Regions from separate parts of the Homo sapiens genome. Here regions 1 and 3 are each linked to region 2. Evidence: fine-mapped expression QTL. A gene starts in region 2. Each other region holds a variant in brackets. All regions are shown on one strand. Distances are between the middles of the regions.

Region 1 (6,650 bases), 21 kb after region 2:
CTTCCCATAGCCAACTGCAGGTGTGATATCTAGCAGGTGTCTCAAATTCAACTCGTCCCAAACTGGCCTCCTTATTTTTTCTCCAAAACCAGCTCTTCCACAATTTTCCTGATCTTTGTATTTGGGTTCTCTAACTTTGCAGTTACTCTGGCTAAAAACCGTGGGGTCATTCTCATCTCCTTCATTTCTCAGGTATTTTACCTTCAATCCACAAGGACATCTTGTCAGTTTAACCTCAAAAAAAATCTATAATCCAACTAGTTCTTCCTGCCTTCACTGCCACCATCAGCTCTCACTGGCATCACTGCCATGGCTTCCTGACCTGTCTGCCTACATCCATCCCTGCTCCCCTGCATCCTGTTAACCACTAAGGTGATGATGCTTCTCTGCCCCAGCCCTCTTGTGGCCCCTCATCTCTCCCATGGGGAGATTCACTGAGGCCACTGACATAGTGCCTGTCATTCATGAAAGGGGACTGCTATGGTGAATGGAATGATAAAGGCCATAGCATGGTCATGGAAACACAGGGCAGAGGGGACTCATTCCAACCATTGGAAGGAGAGGGCTTCCAGAAGGAGGCATCATTGGTTCTAAGCTTTGAACCCTGAGTCTGTCTATTATGTTGTCTAGAGACATGCAGATAATAGTGCCTGTAACGCTGCACTCTGGCGAGGGTGTCCACCGAGGGCTGATTCCACCAGACAGTCTGTCCCAGCTCTCTCTGTGCTCCTGTGTGCCAGCACTGGGTAGGTTCTCAGGTTGCCCAGGGCCCAACATCCTCATTGCAGAAGCAGATATTCCAGCGGGCTCAACAGAAGCAACTATGCACACGAGAATGCTCCTTGAGAGTGGCATAAGGGCTGTTACTATTATTATTTATTTAATATAATATAACAATAAATTCCTTCACCTGCTTCTTTCTCATCCATTGGTGTGAGCTCAAAGGATGCAGATCTTTTTTTTTTCTTTTCTTTTCTTTTTTTTTTTTTTGGAGATGGAGTTTTTCTCTTCTTGCCCAAGCTGGAGTGCCATGGCGCTATCTTGGCTCACTGCAACCTCCGCCTCCCAGGTTCAAGCGATTCTCTTGCCTTAGCCTTCTGAGTAGCTGGGATTACAGGCACACGCCAGGACGTCCGGCTAATTTTTTGTATCTTTAGTAGAAAAAGGTTTCACCATGTTAGCTAGGCTGGTCTCGAACTCCTGACCTCAGGTGATCTGCCTGCCTTGGCCTCCCAAAGTTCTGGGATTATAGGCATGAGCCACAGCACCTGGCCAGATCATTTTTAATGTTAGCCAGAACTAAGGAAGGGCCCCGTTTCAACTGCAAAAAGTCCAGACCAGCAGAGTTGAGCTTCACTCCTCCTCCACTTTCTGGGATCTGGTCCCATGCGTGCTACATGGATGATCTCACTTCTTTTTCATGTAGTCCTGCAAGGTAGGTACTACTGTCACCACTTTACAGGCTGGGTGGTGAAGCCACCTGCTCACAGTGCCACCGCCAGTGAAGGGCAGAGCCAAGACAGGAATCAGGTCTGTCTGTCACCAAAGTGCCATGTTCTTAGCCACTATACTGCACTACAGCCTGGGAGACTTGCAGAGCCACGGGGAAGTCACACGTGGATCTTTCTTTCTAGGCTGATCCATGACCTACCTCTCAGTTCCTGGGCAGGTGAGTGCCGACCCGAAGTGCTTGCTCCGTGGGCTTGTCCTGCCTTGCACCCACTGCAATGCCTTCCAGGTTGAGGTGCGCTGGGCACACGCCCAGAGACCTTTGCACTGCCGTTTGAAAAGTTATTTAATGAGAAACTTTTTGTACTTCTCTTGTCCTCTTGCCAGAGGCTTCTGTATACATAACTCTGCAAACTGCTCTGCTATTTGCTCATAGAAGTCAAGTTGATTTTTAGTCTCTCTTCCTTCTATGTAGATCCCTCTAAATAGTTCTATGGCCATTTCCTTTTTTATAACTATATATCTTTATAACTATGTCTTCCTTTATTTATAGGTGTATGTAGGTGCTATTCTTTCTCCTTTATTTATAAGCATTTCAACAGAGGACCAGGATCTGAAGCCAAAAAGTGAGAATTATCTGGGTCTTTTAGTTTTTTTGTTTTTTAATATTTATGGGTACATAGTAGGTATATATATTTGTGTGGTACATAAGATATATGGATACGGAGAATTGCCTGTTTATTCATCGAAGACCTAGAAAATAATTCACAGAGAGCAGGTCAGGTTCAATGTGAAGCTTCCATAAAGTCAAATTCCTGCTGCAGAAAAATGTGGGGAGAATCAAAGTTCTGGCCCTGAGCCTCATCAGCTCTGAGCCTTCGCCCTCCTCCCCTCCTGTGCAGGGGGTGGAAACCACATGGGCTTTGGCATCAGAAGGACGGGGACTCAAATTCCAGCTCTGCCAGTGTCCTTGGGCATGTTCCTAAACTGCCCTGATGATGTTTACCTGGCAAGATCTTGGGAGGATTGGTGTCATAAAGCTCACAAAGGTCCCAGCACAGAGGCCAACACACAGATGGTGCCCAACTCTCTTTGTGGGCTGTGCCTTGACTCCCGAAAGATTAGGTGTGTGGGCGGAGCCGGACAAAGGCACAATGCCATGCTGATCCGGCCAGTCTGTTTCCTGCCTGGGGCGTGTTCTCTCACAGCAAGGCCCCGGAGAGAACTCCAGGAAGAGACACACTGAGAAAGTGAGCTTTTATGGACCACACTAGCTCACACCCAATTATTATCATGATGAAATGGTTTTCCCAAGGGCTGGTATGAAAGATTGTAGATTTTGTGGATTCCTTGCTTTGGTTTTATTTCCTTCCACCAACTTAATGATGGGTCACTTTGCTAGTGACCTGTCATTCACCAGCCCCACCTTGGTAAACAGCAGCAGGATGTGATTTTTGAGTCAGTTTCTCTATATGCTGGAAACATTGTGAGCGGGGATGAGGGAGAGGGCAGAGATTGGTTTGTTCAATCAACAAATATTTATTGAGCTCCTGATAAGTGCCAGACATGGTGCTAGCACCAGGGATGTGGAAATGAACAGGTGCCTCCCCTCATGGAGCTTACATTCTCTTATGGAGGCTGAATAAGCAAATAAAATGTCAGGTAGCAGTAAGTGCTATGAAGACATGTAAGGCAGGGCAGGAGGATGGAGAGAAATGAAGGGAAGAGATGGTGCTGTTTGAGATAGAGTGGTTAGGAAGGGGCTCTCTGAAGAAGTGACATTTGAACAAGGACTTGAATGAGGATGTTACCTATGTGAGGAACAGCAAATGTAAAGACACTGAGGTGGTGTATTAGTCAGCTATTGCTACAATGATGCTGCATAATACACATCCTATGACTCAGTGGCTGAAAACAATAATTATTTGTTCTTGATGATGCTTCTGCAGGTCCACTAGTGAGCGGCTGATGTAGGATGGGCTCAGCTGGGCTTGACTTCAAGCTGCATATCTGTGTCTCTCATCCTCTTTGCATCAGCAGGCTAGGGAGGGCATGTTCTCAGGTTGGTGGCAGCAGAGGGATAGGACAAACAGAAAGAAGTGATTCACTTTAGGGCCTCACTTGGAACTGACACACCGTGAGTCTACTCATATTTTACTGACCAAGACATAGCACAACGCCAAGCTTAACATCCATGGAGCTGAGAAGTATACTGTACCTCTAGTAGTAGGAATGGCAAATGGCAGAGGGCATGGACAGGGAGATGGGTGAAGAATTGGGAACATCAGTGCTGTCTGCCACAAGTGGGAACTAGCTTTGTGTGCTGAAGCATCAGCAACAAGGTCGGGATGGCCAATGTGGAGTGAATGAGGC[G/A]GAGAGGGGAAAAGATGAGGTCAGGACCTGGATGGCAGCCACTTCATAAATGTCCTTGATAAGAAGTTGGACTTATTCTAAGTGTAATGGGAAGCCACTGGAGGCTGGTTTTTTTCCTTTAATTTTAATTGGCATATATCACATACTATAAAGCACACAAATATTAGTTAAATATACAGTTCGATGATAAGTTTTTAGAAAGTGAAAAGTTAGTTTTGACTTTTTTTAGCTTTATATAAATGGAATTAAACTGTACATATTCCTTTGTGCCTGTTTTCTTTTGATCAGCTTTATGTCTGTGAGATTCATCTATGTCCTCACCTGGAGCAGTTATATCCTCCCCTATCACTGTATGGTATTCATCATATGACTATACCTCAATTTATTGATCTTTTCTATTGTTGATGGACATTTGAGTAGTTGCCAGTTTTGGGCTATGAAGAATAATCCTGCTAAGAATATTTTGTTTGTGTTTTCTGCTGCACAGATATAAACATTTCTGTTTGGTATATACGGAGGAGTGTGTATGTACCTGTTAATAGGGTATATGTATGGTCAGCTTTAGTAAATATGGCCAATAAATGTCATTATATATGTTAATATAGAAAACAGTATATTAATATATTACATAATATATAACAATATATATTACTATGTGTTATACAGATGTATAAAGGTATAAAACAAGTGTCTTCTCCTACTGTATGGCTTGCCTTTTGACTCTTAAAAGTGTCACTCAGTGAAGACTGGGCGTGGTGGCTCACACCTGTAATCCCAGCACTTTGGGAGGCTGAGGCAGGAGGATTGCTTGAGGCCAGGAGTTCGAGACCAGCCCTGGCAGCATAGCAAGACCCTGTCTCTACAAAAAAAGTTGAAAATTAACTAGGTGTGGTGCTATGCACTTATAGTCCCAGCTACTTGGGAAGCTGAGGTGTGAGGGATCACTTGAAGTTGGGAGTTTGAGGCTGCACTGAGCTCTGATCACACCACTGCACTGTAGCCCGAGTGAGACCCTGTCTCAAAAAAAAAAAAAAAAGTGTCATTTAGTGGACAGAAGTTCTTGGTTTTAATGTAATTCAATTCCTCAACTTTTTCCTTTATGGCTAATGCCTTTTGTATTCAGTTAAATGAATCTTTATCTTTACAAAGATCACAAATGTAATCTCCTATGTTTTCCTCTAGAAGCTTTATTGTTTTATTTTCAACATTTAAGGACTTGTATAGAGAATATTTAATGAACTGATACAGATCAAAAAGAAAAAGAATGGAGAGTTGTTGGTCAAAGGCACAAAGTTTCAGATAGAATGAGATTTGAGATCTATTGTATAGCACAGTGACTACAGCCAATAATAATGTATATTTTAAAATAACTTAGAAAGTGAATGTCCAATGTCTCACCACAAAAAATAATAAGTGAGGTGTTATATATGCTGATTAACTTAATTTATGTATTCCCCATTGTATACATATACATTGCACCCCATAAAAAAATATACAATTAGGCCAGGCATGGTGGCTCACACCTATAATCCCAGCACTTTGGGAGGCCGAGGTAGGCAGATCACCTGAGGTCAGGAGTTCAAGACCAGCCTGACCAACATGGAGAAACCCTGTCTCTACTAAAAATACAAAATTAGCCAGGTGTGGTGGCACATGCCTGTAGTCCCAGCTACTCAGGAGGCTAAGGCAGGAGAATCGCTTGAACCCAGGAGGCAAAGGTTGCGGTGAGCTGAAATCATGCCATTGCACTCCAGCCTCGGCATCAAGAGCAAAACTCCATCTCAAAAAAAAAAAAAGTATATATATGTGTATATATATGGATATATATGTGTATATATGTATACACAATTAATATTTGTCAGTTAAAATAATATTAATAAAACATTTTTAAAGAAAAAGACAAGCCAATTTTTTAAATGAGTAAGATTATTGAATAGGATCTTCACAAAAGGGGACATTCATATGGCCAATAAGCACACAAAAATGTCTGCAACATCATTAGTTATCAAAGAAGTATACATTTAAGTTATATGAGATTTCACTTCACATCCACCAAAATGACTAAAATTAAACAAAACATAGAAAATACCAAGTGTTTATGAGGATGTGCAGCAATTGCTGGTGGGACAGCATATTAAATACAACCACTTTGGAAAACTTGTGGTTTCTACTAAAGTTGGACATACATAGACCCTATTAGTATACACATCAGATGGGCCCAGGTTGAGGATAATCCTACAGAATAATTGAGAACATGAAAGATAGGGAAAGAATAAGAATAAGGATCCAGGGCCGGGTGCGGTGGCTCATGCCTGTAATCCCAGCACTTTGGGAGGCCGAGGCGGGTGTATCACCCGAGGTCAGGAGTTCAAGACCAGCCTGGCCAACATGGCGAGACCCTGTCTTTACTAAAAATACAAAAATTGGCTGGGTGTGGTGGCAGGCACCTGTAATCCCAGCTACTCGGGAGGCTGAGGCAGGAGAATCACTTGAACCCAGGAGGCAGAGGTTGCAGTGAGCCAAGACTGTGCCATTGCACTCCAGCCTGGGCAACAAGAGCAAAACTCCATCTCAAAAAAAAAAAAAAAAAAAAAAAGAATAAGGATCCATTCCAGATTGAAGGGGATAAAGAGAAACAACAATGAACTAGAACATCACGTGAGAGTGTTAAGCAAAGGAGTGGAATGATATAACTTGTTGTTTTTAAAGATCAGTCTGGCTGCTGCATGGCGAGCAAATGGGGCAGGTTGTGGCAGCAAGGAGGTGTTAGGAGACTCTTGCAATAATCCAAGAAAAAGGTAATCATGATGGGGATCAGGGTGGAAACA
Region 2 (5,000 bases):
GTTGTTACATAGATGTACTCATACATAAAGTTTTGTTGAACTTAATAAGTGCACATTTAAACATATACATACATTTAAAAATTTATTTTTTTAATGGCAAAGCCTGTTGATGCTTAAATTGTAACTGATGTTTGCCTAAAAGTGAGGACAGTTCACTGGGAGCTGAGGGAGAGGAGCCTACTCAGTGAACTCCTACCCAACCTCCAGGACCCATCTCAAATTGTCCCTATTCTGTAAAGCCTTCTCCCACCGTTCTGGTTGTAACCTAATGTTCATATTGCGGGGCATCTCTTCACAACAATCAATCTTCTCTAAACCAGGAGCTAATCCTAGAGGAATGCAGGAACTTGTTGCACGAAGCATTGGTTAGTATGTGCTTATTAAACACTCAATGGTTGCCTAAGACAGACAGGTACACACACTCACACCCTCACAGTCCAGCAGAAGACACTAATGCCCACCCCCAAACAGGATGTCAGTTCTTCTCAGGCAACAGGATCCAGGCACTTGGCTTATTATCAAAAGAGATCACTTTCAACATCCCAGCCCAAGCCTCCTCCTTTAACACAAATCACAGCCAGAAGAGATCAGAGCGGCCCAGAGCAAACTCAGTTTCCAGTGTCCACCCCAGGAGGCTCCCCAGTCCTTTTGAGGTCACCTCTGCCGGCACTGTCCTTGCCCAACCTAGGGGTGGGGCAGACCCTGGGCTCCCAGGAAACATTCAATCAGGTGTAATGTTTAAACTTGACTGCTCGGCCATCCCCCAGCGCTGGGGCTCCCTACCCTATAACAGTAAAGTCGCTGCCCTGGCTGGGGGAGGGCACCCACAGCCCCATCGCCTCTCTGCCCAGGCCTCCCAGCTCGCTCCTAGCCACTCCTAACCTTGAACCCTCTAGAAACCCAAGCCAGCAGGGGAAGCAGCTACAGAAACTTCACCTGCACAGGTCAATGTGGGTGAAGAAGGGCCGGAAGTGGTGTTCTGTCTAGTTCTGCAAAGCCCATATATGAAAAAAAAGAAGCTGGAGATACAGTTCCATGAAGAACACCTGTCTGTTGGGTGGATAGGTTGTGGAGGGGAAATTATGGGTGACTTTTTTCCTTCAAATATTTTTGTGCTTTCTAAGTTTCCACATTGAATAAATTCTTTTGAAAGAGAAACACACTTCATGTGTGGCACCGCCATACCCAGCCGCTCTCCACCACTGGAGTTTCTCTTTCACCTCTTCTCAGCTACCTCCCAGGTAGAAGCCTTGGTCCCAGTGTCCTGTGCCCAGGCAGGGTCGGAGTTGGGGGCCAGCGTGGGGGAAGGGTGGGGCTCTCGCCCTCTCCCCAGTTAGAGTCCTGATCCTGCAGGGGAGGGGCAGCTCCCTAAGCAAAGTGGCCGCTGGAGTTGGGTGCTTGCCTGACCCCACCGATCCGATCCGCACCCCTGGCCCCGCTTTCCCCAACTCACCCCCTGAAGCGCCGCCCACCATTCAATTCCCCTTGCCTCGAAGGTACTTAGGAAGTGCGCGAACTCACACACACACACACACACACACACACACACACACACAGAGTCGCACTGTCTCCTCCCCTCCCTAACCTGGGCCACCGCCCCCAAGAGCCCACGTACAAACTTCTCCAAACTCGCAGCGGTGACTGGAGGGGGTGGTGACGTCCCCCTAATGAAAATGCGAGCCCTCGCCCCACAACACACACACGTGTGGCGCCCCACCCCCTGGGCAACTGTAAACCTGGCCGCGGCTGGCCGCCCTGGGGCTTGGGGGCGGGTATCCAACCCCAGCCTCCCACCTCGAGGCAAGTGACAGGAACAACGAGCGGCCGGCGAGCGGGGGCGGCGCGGGGGAGTTGCCAAGTGTCGGAGCGGCGCCCCGGGCCCCCCGAGCGCCCAGCCATCCCGGGGCGAGCCTGGGCTGCGTTACCTTGCAGGTTCTGCACTCGGATGTCGCTAATCTGCCCGATGAGCTCCTCGCGTTGGAACCAGTCCCACTCGTGTGCAGCCATGAAGCGCGGGCGGGAGAGCCCGGGCCAGCGCGGCGCGGGCGGCGGGCGCGGAGAGCCTGGCTGGCGGGCGCGCGAGCGGCACGCACCCGGCGAGGGCGCCGCGGAGCTGGAGTCGCGGCGGGCGCGGGCGGGGCGCGGGCGCGGGCGGGGCGGGGCGGGGCGGGGAGGGGCGGGCGGCGCGGTCGGGGCCGCCCCCGCCGCGGGCTGGCGCGAGCGAGCGCGGGGCGGCGGGTGCGGGGCGGCGGGCTCGCTCTCACTCCCCCGTGCGGGGGCGGGGGCCCTGAGGAGCGAGGGGCGAGGGGCGAGGGGCGGGGCGGGGCGGGGCAGGGGCGGGAGGCTGGGTCAGGCCAGCTTGTGTTTTTTTTCTTTCCGGGGTGTTTGTAGGTTGGATTGTTTGGTTACAAACCGGCTGTGATGAGGCGCGGGTCCCGGCCCCCAGATTGTGATGTCTCAGGGGGCGGTGGGCCGGGTGACGCAACTGGGGGTGGGCCCGTGGGTCCCAGTACCTGGTCCAGGAGGCAGCGTCTCCCTCCCGTCCGGGATAAGACACCCCCTCCGCGGGTCCCCTGTCCACTCTGGAGAGGCAGCCCCCACTTGGAGGGACCAGGACCCGAGCCCTGCCCATCCCCGAATCCTGGGAGCCCTGCGTGGGGAGTGTCGAGGGCCTGGGTCGGGGGGCAAACTAGTGTGGAGGTAAAGTTGTGGGAGTCTCCAAAGTGCGGGGGGGCTGTGAAAGAAGGGCCTTCTTCGTTGGTTTAGATACTAGGAGCCTTTTCCGGTCCAGTAATGTGACTCCAGCTTCTAGGAAGGAACAAGAAGCAGGCCAACTCCTAGGAGCTGGGGTACGCTGTGGGGTCTCTGGCCACTGAGTCTCCAAGTGACCCTCTGTGGGGTCACTGGAAATTAGTGAAAATGCCAGGACAGAACTTCCTGTGGAGACTACTGAAAATGCCAGGACAGGCCTTCCGGTCCCCTCCCTCCCCACCTCCACTGTTGAACTCTAGAGAATTCCAGGATCTTATCCTGTTTGGTGCCCACCATGTGGTTTACACTCCTTAAAAGTGAGACCCTACAGTTACCGAATTTGCCCAAGGTTGAGGAATGACTTAGGAGCAGGAAGTCCCAGCCCCCTGCTCCCAGCTCAGTGCTTGGGCCCTTTCTGTGACAACTAAGGCCACAAAGAAAATGGCTTTAAATATTCAGTGTTCCAAGAGGGGGAAAAAAATGGACAGGGCTCACTGGGCATTTAAACACATGGGCCTGTGTGCATCGCTGCTCTGTTCACAGCAATGAATCCCGGAAACCCGGCTGCTCACTAATTACCCAGTAACTATGGAGGTCCCCCGAAGGACAGACCTGTGCCCTTGAGGCAGGGCCCTGAAGGAGGGTGAGTCTACCCTCCAGTCATCCATTGGGGCAGGGGCTATCGTGTGGCCCTTAAACAAGGAAAGGAGATTTCTAAAGTGGACTCCAGAAAGGAGAAAGTCAATTTGGGTTAAGGAACTGTGAATGCGGGTGGAGGGCAGCAGAGGTCTCTAAAGACTGACCTTGGAGCTGAGCCCAGAAGGAGGAGAGGAACCCCCACAGGGACAGCAGTTTGGGCGGGGAAAGGTGGGATCAGTGGAGACAGAAGTGGAGGCCCCATTAGGGGCTCCTTGGTGCTTGGGCTTGAGGCAGGAGCTTCCTTGCTGCTGCCTTGATTCTTAATCTTGTGGTCATTTCACACTCCAAGGAGCAGGATCTCTTTCTGCGTCCTGTGGAGCCAGGGTGGTAGTAGCAGCCAGGCTAATTTTGCCCCATCTGCTAGCCATCTCCCTGTTCTTACACTTCAATTTATTTTCCATAATTGCTGTGGGGTGAAGTTGTGCTGAAAACCATTTTCTTTACAAAGCAGAGAGCTAAGAGAATCAGCCTTCTTCTCCATCATGAGAGAGGTTGCAGGGAATCTGTCTTTAAGCAATGTGCCCTGTGGATGTTAGCTACAGGGTTGGGCCATTTTTCATGATGCAAAGATGTCTGATCCTGGGAATGGACAGCCACATCATTTGGGGAACACTACCCAGTCAGCAACAGCTCCCTGGCAGGGAGGGACTATGATCACCATCGATTGAGCACCAACTGTATACCAGTTGTTGGACGACTCTCAGCCTAAAGAACTTCTTTGCTTTTCAGTAAGGTGGAAAGAATTTTAGGTGTTTTTCAAAAAGGAATAGAAGCCAGTATTGAGCATGAGGCTGGCCTCTAAAAGGTACTTGAATATTCATTGAACTCATGTGTCAATATCACCCCTGTTTCCTAGAGTGTCTCTGGGCTCCTCTGTGGGGCACACTAAGTCATCTGTGATTGATCTGTGCCCCTCAATCCTGGCTCTACACTTTTTGACCCAGCAGTGCTGAGCTGCCTCAGGTCCTGGCCACATCCAGTCACTTCCAGACCTTTGCTCATTTGTCCCCTTTGAAACGCCCTTCCCCTGCTCCCTGCACTTCACCTTTACCTAGCTTACTCCTGCTTAATCATGTGCACCTCAGAGACTTCTCCAACACCACTAGGCTCAGCTGGGTGCCTGTCTTGTACAATTCCCGTAATATTAAGTACAATCACATAATATTCCATGAACTCTGCAATTCTGTTTCCTGATTGCATCGTACTACAATTATGTTTACTTGACAGTTTTCCCCAATAAATTGTGAAGTACGTGAAAACAAGGGCTGCTCTGTGTCTGGCACAGGGAGAGGTGTCGAAATTAAATGGATGGATGAATGAATGACTCTCACTATAGGCCTGAACCCAGAAACCAGGGGACCAAAGTGAAAAAAACAGTTGACCTTCATGTCCAAGGCCCCAGTACGCTCCTGGAAAGGTGATTTTAAAAAAGTTTGCATATGTGCGATAGGCAAAGCACGTGCTTTTGGGAACCAGGTACATACCAATCTATGATATGTCCCTTCCTCTGGGTGTGTGCAGCCTCCTGGATCTGGAGTTCTGGCTGGGAG
Region 3 (6,951 bases), 35 kb after region 2:
GATAGCTACGCACTTCATCCATGTTGTTGCGGGGTGCCACAGGCATCCCTGCTTGACTACGTGCCTGTTTTTATTGTTATATAGATGCACCACCGTTTGTTGATCTGCTCATCTGCTGATGGGCCCCTGGGCTTTTTCTCGTTTTTAGCTATTAAAAATAAAACTGTTATAAGCATTCATGTAATGATCCTTGTGTGGAAATATGCTGGCATTTCTTTCTTTCTTTCTTTCTTTCCTTCTTTTTTTATTTTTTGAGACACAGTCTCACCTTCACCCAGGCTGGAGGGCAGTGGCGGGATTTTGGCTCAGTGTAACCTCTGCCTTCTGGGTTCAAGCGACTCTCCTGTCTCACTCTCCCAAGTAGCTGGGACTACAGGTGCCACCACCACGCCCAGCTAGTTTTCATATTTTTAGTAGACACAGGGTTTCACCATGTTGGCCAGGCTAGTCTTGAACTCCTGACCTCAAGTGATCTGCCCGCCTCAGCCTCCCAAAGTGTCGGGAATACAGGCATGAGCCACCATGCCCAGCCGTGCTTGCATTTCTTTTGTGTAAATATGTAGGGATGGAATGGCTGAATCATATGTAGGTATGTATTTAGCTTTTATAAAAACCACCAAACTGTGCTTCCAACGTGGCTGTTCCATTTTACATGCCCACCAGCAGTGCTGGACACCCTACATTGCTCTCCATCCTTAGAAATACTTGGTATGGTCTGTCTGTTTAAAATAGTGAAGAGCTTTAGAAGTGATAAATACCGTATGTTGGTAAATATAAAATATATTATTTCTTTTAGAAAATCCCTTTAACGGCTTGGCAATGTTGTCCATGCCTGTAATCCCAGTGCTTTGGGAGGCTGAGGCAGGAGGATTGCTTCAGGCCAGGAGTTTGAGACCAGCCTGGGCAACATAGCAAGACCTTGTCTCTACAAAAATAAACACAAATAAAAAAAGTTAGCCAGGTGTGGTGGTGCACACCTCTAGTTCTAGATATTTGGGAGGCTGAAGTGGGAAGATGGCCTGGGTGACAGATCAAGACCCTCTCTGTAAAATAAATAAATAAATAAATAAATAAATAAATAAATCCTTTAAAAGGTAATTATTAAAAGTAAAACTACTATCAACTAACATATTGTAAGGTGGAGTTTATAACATACATAGAAGTAAAAATATATGACAAATTAGAACAATGGCCAGGAGAGGAGAAATGGAAGTATACTGTTATAAAGTTTTCATATAGCACATGTCGTGTTATAATATCACTTGAAGGTAGATTGTAATAAGGGAAAAATGTGTACTATAACCCTAAAGCAACCACTAAAAGAAAACAGAGAGGGGTAGCCAAGAAGCCCACAAGAGATAAAATAGGATCATAAAAGAATTCTCAGCCGGACACAGTGGCTTACACCTGTAATCCCAGCACTTTGGGAGGCTGAGATGAGAGGGTCACCTGAGGTTAGGGGTTCAAGACCAGCCTGGCCAACATGGTGAAACCCCATCTCTACCAAAAATACAAAAATTAGCTGGGCGTGGTGGCAGGCACCTGTAGTCCTGGCTACTTGGGACGCTGAGGCAGGAGAATCACTTGGACCCAGGAGGTGGAGGTTGCAGCGAAGCTGAGATCACACCGCTATACTCCAGCCCGGGCAACAAGAGCGAAACTCCATTAAAAAAAAAAAAAAAGCTCAACCTAAAAGACGGCAGAAAAAGAGGAAAAGGAAACAACAGATGGCACGCTATCAACCAGCGTGACTTAGCTGATATTTATAAAACACTTCACCCAAGGACAACAGAATACACACTCCTCTCCAACGCACATGGAATATGTACCAAAGTAGGCCATATTCTGGGCTACAGAACAAGTCTTGATAAATGTAAATGAACCCCCACTTTACAAAATTTGCTCTGTGCTCACAAATTAGACATCAATACCCAAAAGACATCTGGAAAATGACATAATATTAGAAACAAAATAATATACATCTAAGTAATGCATGGGCCAAAGCAAAAATCAAAAGTTGCCCATATCAAAACATCTCATGTACCCCATAAATATATACACCTACTATGTACCCACAAAATTTAAAAATTGGGGTGGGGGGAGAGGGGAGCGATAGCATTAGGAGATATACCTAATGTAAATGACAAGTTAATGGGTGTAGCACACCAACATGGCACATATATACATATGTAACAAACCTGCACATTGTGCACATGTACCCTAGAACTTAAAGTATAATAAAAAAAATTAAAAAAAGAAGAAATCAAAAGTAACTCAAAGTGAATGAAAATAAAAACTGACATTATCAGTACTTGCAAGATGCAGCTAAAGTGGTGCTCAGAGGAAAATTCATAGCATGAATTGCCATTAAAAAAGAGGAAAGGGCCAGGCTTGGTGGCTCATGCCTGTAATCCCAGCAATTTGGGAGGCCAAGGTGGGCAGATCACGAGGTCAGGAGATTGAGACCATTCTGGCTAACACAGTGAAACCCTGTCTCCACTAAAAATACAAAAAAATTAGCCAGGTGTGGTGGCGGGCACCTGTAGTCCCAGCTACTTGGGAGACTGAGGCAGGAGAATGGTGTGAACCTGGGAGGCAGAGCTTGCGGTGAGCCGAGATGGCACCACTGCACTCCAGCCTGGGTGAGAGAGACAGACTCCGTCTCAAAAAAAAAAAAAAAGAGGAAAGGTCACGAAGCAATGACCTAGGCTTTTACCTTAGGAAACAAGAAAAGAGAGAGCAAATCAAGTCCAAAGTAAAAAGAAGAAAGGAAATAATAAAGTAAAATTAGGTATCAGTGACATTGAAAAGCCAAGAGGAGACAGAAACACAAAGTCAAATACTGCATGTTCTCACTTATAAGTGGGTGCTAAATGATGGGTACACAGGGGCATGCAGAGTGGAATAGTAGACATTGGAGATTATGAAACATGGGAGGGTGGGGATGGGGGTGAGGGATAGAAAATTCCCTATTGGATACAATGTTCACTCTTCAGATGATGTGTATAGGAAAAGCCCAGACTTTACCACTATGCAATATATGCATGGAAGAAACCTGCACTTGTACCCCCCAAAAATATACAAATAAAAAATTAAAAAGGAGAGAATGAAACAAAAGCTTTTTCTTTGAGAAAATCATAAAATTATATGCTTTCTTTTTTTCCCAAGAGTTGTATTCCCACCAGTTCTGAATTGCATTCCAGTGCCTTCAAATGGTTTTTTAAAAATTTGCTATTCAGAGATTTTAATGGTTACAATCAGGAGGCTTGGTCAGATTCAAGCCACCCCACCATTTACTGTACCTGGAACCCTGGCTTCCATAGCTACTTGTCACACTGTATGCTTCCTTCTGTAGCCTTCTCTCCTACTTATTTGATGTTTCCCATTGTCTGTGAGCCAGGAGATCGAATAATCATACTTGTGAGAATTGTATAACAGCCAGAATCAGTGGCTCTGGCAGACTCTCTGGTGAATGAGGTCTGTGCGTTTCCATTCAAACACCTCTTTTGTTTACTTCCCAGGAGATGGTATGATGTAATGAAATGGAGATGGGCCACAGAGTCTGACTTGACCGAGGTTCAAATCCTAGGTTTGCCACTTAGGAGTATCATGACCTTGGGCAATGTACCTCACCTCTGTGGACTCAGTTTCCTTACCTGTGAAATGAGGTTGCATTGAATCTCCAGACTGCTGTAGGGCCTAAAGGACATAATATATTGAAAGTTCCTAACATCACCCCTGGCACCCCCTGGTGCTCAGCACAAATGACCTTTCCTTCCTTAACCCTTTCCCTCCTGTCCTGGAGAATATCTGTTGACTGGTAAGTTACCTCCAGATGAGTAAATCAGGGTGTGTCGAGGTATTAATATATATTTGAGCCAATTTGCTTTTTAAGTTTTCTTTGTGCGTGTGCTAACAAATTGTAAAGGCATCAAAGATTCTATTCACTACTTTCCAGTTCCTTGGCCACCCCCCTCTGCCACCGTTAGGCTGAATCAGCTCTGGTCCTGAGTCCCCCACCAGAATGACTATGTCTGGGGCCAATAAAGTCCATTGCCCATCCCAGGGGGCACTATTGGCCATCATTAACATTAAATTCTATAGTCCTGGCCGGAGCGAGAACCCATTCTCTCCCCAGTCACCAGGACAGGACCAGCAGGCTGGGAATGTCACTTTATTTGGATTTGGTTCATGGGATGGGGGTCTCAGAACAAATTGGAAGGCCTCACAC[C/A]GGCAACTGGGCCCAACCAGCTGGGCTCCTGACCCGGGACCTCGTTCTGGCCTGTCTCCCCAAAGCTTATCCACCTAGGATGAGTGCCTTGAAAGTGTACCAAAAATAGAAGTGGCGACGTTTTCAGGAGTTGGTGAAGTCTGACCTTTTACCCTTAGTGAGTCTGTGTAAGGCGTGAGACAACATGGTCTGTCGTCCTTTACGTGCAGGTTTTGGGCAGATGTGCAGATGACGCATCTACCTGCCTTGGGTGTAGTGTGGCGGCCACCAGACCAAGCCTCGTCCAGCTGCCTTCTGCTGAACAGCTGTGGACCCATAAAAGGAAATGCCAGACCTCCCAGCTCTTGCCTCAGAGACAAGCCTCCCTCACATCTATCTCCTCCACCAGCCCTCCCCTGAAAACTGAATTTAAAATCAAGCAGGGCTAGGGAGTCACCGCTCCTGGGGTGTTTTCAGGAATTATCACAGGCCCTGTTCAAAGTGTATAATGTTCTTAAACTGACAGGATTAGGGGATTAAAATTGTATACATTCTAGAATCCAGGTATCAGAAACTCTCTTGAGAAAAAAATGCCTGGCTTGGTGGAGGGGAGTTAAAGTGCTGTAATATCTAGCAGGTGTCTTCAAAGGCCTGCACATGGCCCACGCATTGTCTAACTATGCACTTGTTCATGTGTTGCTTCATTCATTCATGCACATTTATTCATTAGATTGTTTATTTGTTCACACATCAAAATAATATTTCTTGAGCACCTATTATGTGCCAGACACTGAGCTGGGTACTGGGGTTGCTGGGGCAAATGTGATGGCCCAACTTTGCCTCTTCAATACCCACTCCCCATTCTTCTGGCATCAACATCCTGAATTTGTTTAGGGGACAGCCCATCCAATGGACAGAGCCTGAGTGGGGCCCACATCCAAGTGGGGCCTGCCCTTCTGTGGCCCAGTGCAGGCCAGTCAAGAGTATTCCCCCTGGAATTGGAATCTTGAGCAGCATAACATGACAGGGACAAAGGATTACTCTTCATGTATAGCCCTGGCACCCCCAGAGACTCTCCATGTGCCCCTGCCCTGGATCACTGCTGTTCTCTGAACCCAGTCTGGTTTTTATTCTAATTCTTTGAGCTCTCCCAAATCCTCCCAATCAATTTTGCTTTGCTTAAGTAAGCCAGTTTTATTTCCGTTACTAGCAACTCCAGAGCCCTAATATATTCTCTATCCCCCAAGAGCTCACAGTCTCGTAGGACAGACAAGTAAACCAATGATTTGGGCTCAGATACCCTTATAGCAATTACACTGAGCGTTCTGAGAGCCCAGAGGAAGGGCCTTGATTAATTTCTTAGCCTCAGTTTCTCTTTAAATGAAGAGCCCTGTAAACCACTCCAGGTATTCCAGTTATTCATTGCTTTATAATATACCATCCACAGCTGTATGGCTTAAAATATGGATGCATTATTGTCTCCTGTGGTTCTGGGATTTGACTGGACTCAGCCAGTTCTTGCGTAGGTTCTCTTATGCTGTTTGTAGTTGGATTCAGCTGGGGTTGGAATTATCTGAGGGCTTGACGTTGCAGGACGTCCAAGATGGCTCACACAGCATGATGACCTGCTGGTCGTCAACTGGGAGCATGGCTAAGGCTGTCCCTGGGAACATCCATATATGGCCTCTCTGTGTAAAGAATTTTACAACACAGAGTGCTCCAAGATCAACCCCAGAGACCCCAGTGGACACTGCAAGGCTTCTTATGACCTAGCCCTAGAAGTCCCAGAATACCACTAATGACCACTTTATATTTGTCAAGCAAGTCTGTAAGGCCAGCCCAGATTCCAGGGGAGGCAAATTAGACCCCACATCCTAATGAGAGAATGAGACAGTCCTACTACAGGTACAGCATGTGGGATGGGAGCTACTGTTGTGGCCATCTTTGGGAAACATGATTTCTCTCACCAGGTATTCCTTCTAGAACATTCCTTGGGCTACTCACATGCCCAAAATAGGTGGCAGATCTTTGGTGCTTGATCCTAAGTCTCTCCTATGTTAGATGTGACTAATTACTTTGGAAATACCAGTCCCCAGAGTCTTCTGGCATTGTCATGAAGCTTTGTCAACAGAATCAGACCAACCCTCAAAGCTTTAGATTCAAACTCTGTGTTTTCGTCTCAGTTCTAACGCTGAGTTGCTGTGTGAACTTGGTAAGTTGCTTCATCTCTCTGACCCTCAATTTCCTGCTCTGTAAAGGTGACTATTAAACATAGCAGTCCTGCTGAACTCCTGGGATTATGGTGAAAACAAAATGAAATTTTGCAAGTGAAGGAGATTTGTTAACTGTAAAGACCAGGGCACACATAGCAGATTATGGTGATGCCGGCTCCATTGAGGAAGGCACTTTCTATACATTACTCTCCCCAAATCCCTGTAAGGCAGGCAGGCAGCCTTGTAAGTGAGGAAATTAGCTCAAATTCCATTTCTTATTTAAGCCACTTGCTATAAAATTTGAGTCCAGATCTTCTGCAGGCCCCAATCCCTGAGTGGGCTTTTTTTCTTTTTCTCCTTTCCTTTTTTTTTTTTTTTTTTTTTTTTTTTTGGGACAGTCTCGCTCTGTCACCCATGCTGGAGTGCAGTAGCATGATCTTGGTTCACTGAAACCTCCACCTCCCAGGTTCAAGCGATACTTGTGCCTTAGCCTCCCAAGTAGCTGGGATTACAGTCATGCGCCACCAT

Evidence for each region. PIP is the estimated chance that this variant, and not a neighbour inherited with it, causes the effect. A credible set is the group of variants that fine-mapping cannot tell apart.
Region 1: its variant is the best candidate, but not a certain one, in a credible set for the expression of CLMN in whole blood (TOPMed, PIP 0.88).
Region 3: its variant is the best candidate, but not a certain one, in a credible set for the expression of CLMN in monocytes after interferon gamma (Fairfax 2014, PIP 0.72).

What each region holds. Positions count from the first base shown.
Region 1 is chr14:95,337,943-95,344,592 of GRCh38, forward strand. It overlaps LOC124903371 (a long non-coding RNA gene), which reads right to left and starts at 1,746. Exons shown (of 2, transcript XR_007064319.1): 1 at 1,652-1,746; 2 at 1-1,151. The variant G/A (reference allele first, on the strand shown) is at 3,823.
Region 2 is chr14:95,317,786-95,322,785 of GRCh38, forward strand. CLMN (calmin) reads right to left here and starts at 2,123. Exons shown (of 13, transcript NM_024734.4): 1 at 1,926-2,123. The coding sequence starts at 2,007. RefSeq lists enhancers at 994-1,113, 1,134-1,213 and a silencer at 1,844-2,103.
Region 3 is chr14:95,352,136-95,359,086 of GRCh38, forward strand. The region is part of intron 2 of LOC107984710 (a long non-coding RNA gene); the gene reads left to right. Among named protein-coding and RNA genes, the nearest start is that of LINC02292, 26 kb to the left of the region's middle. The variant C/A (reference allele first, on the strand shown) is at 4,232.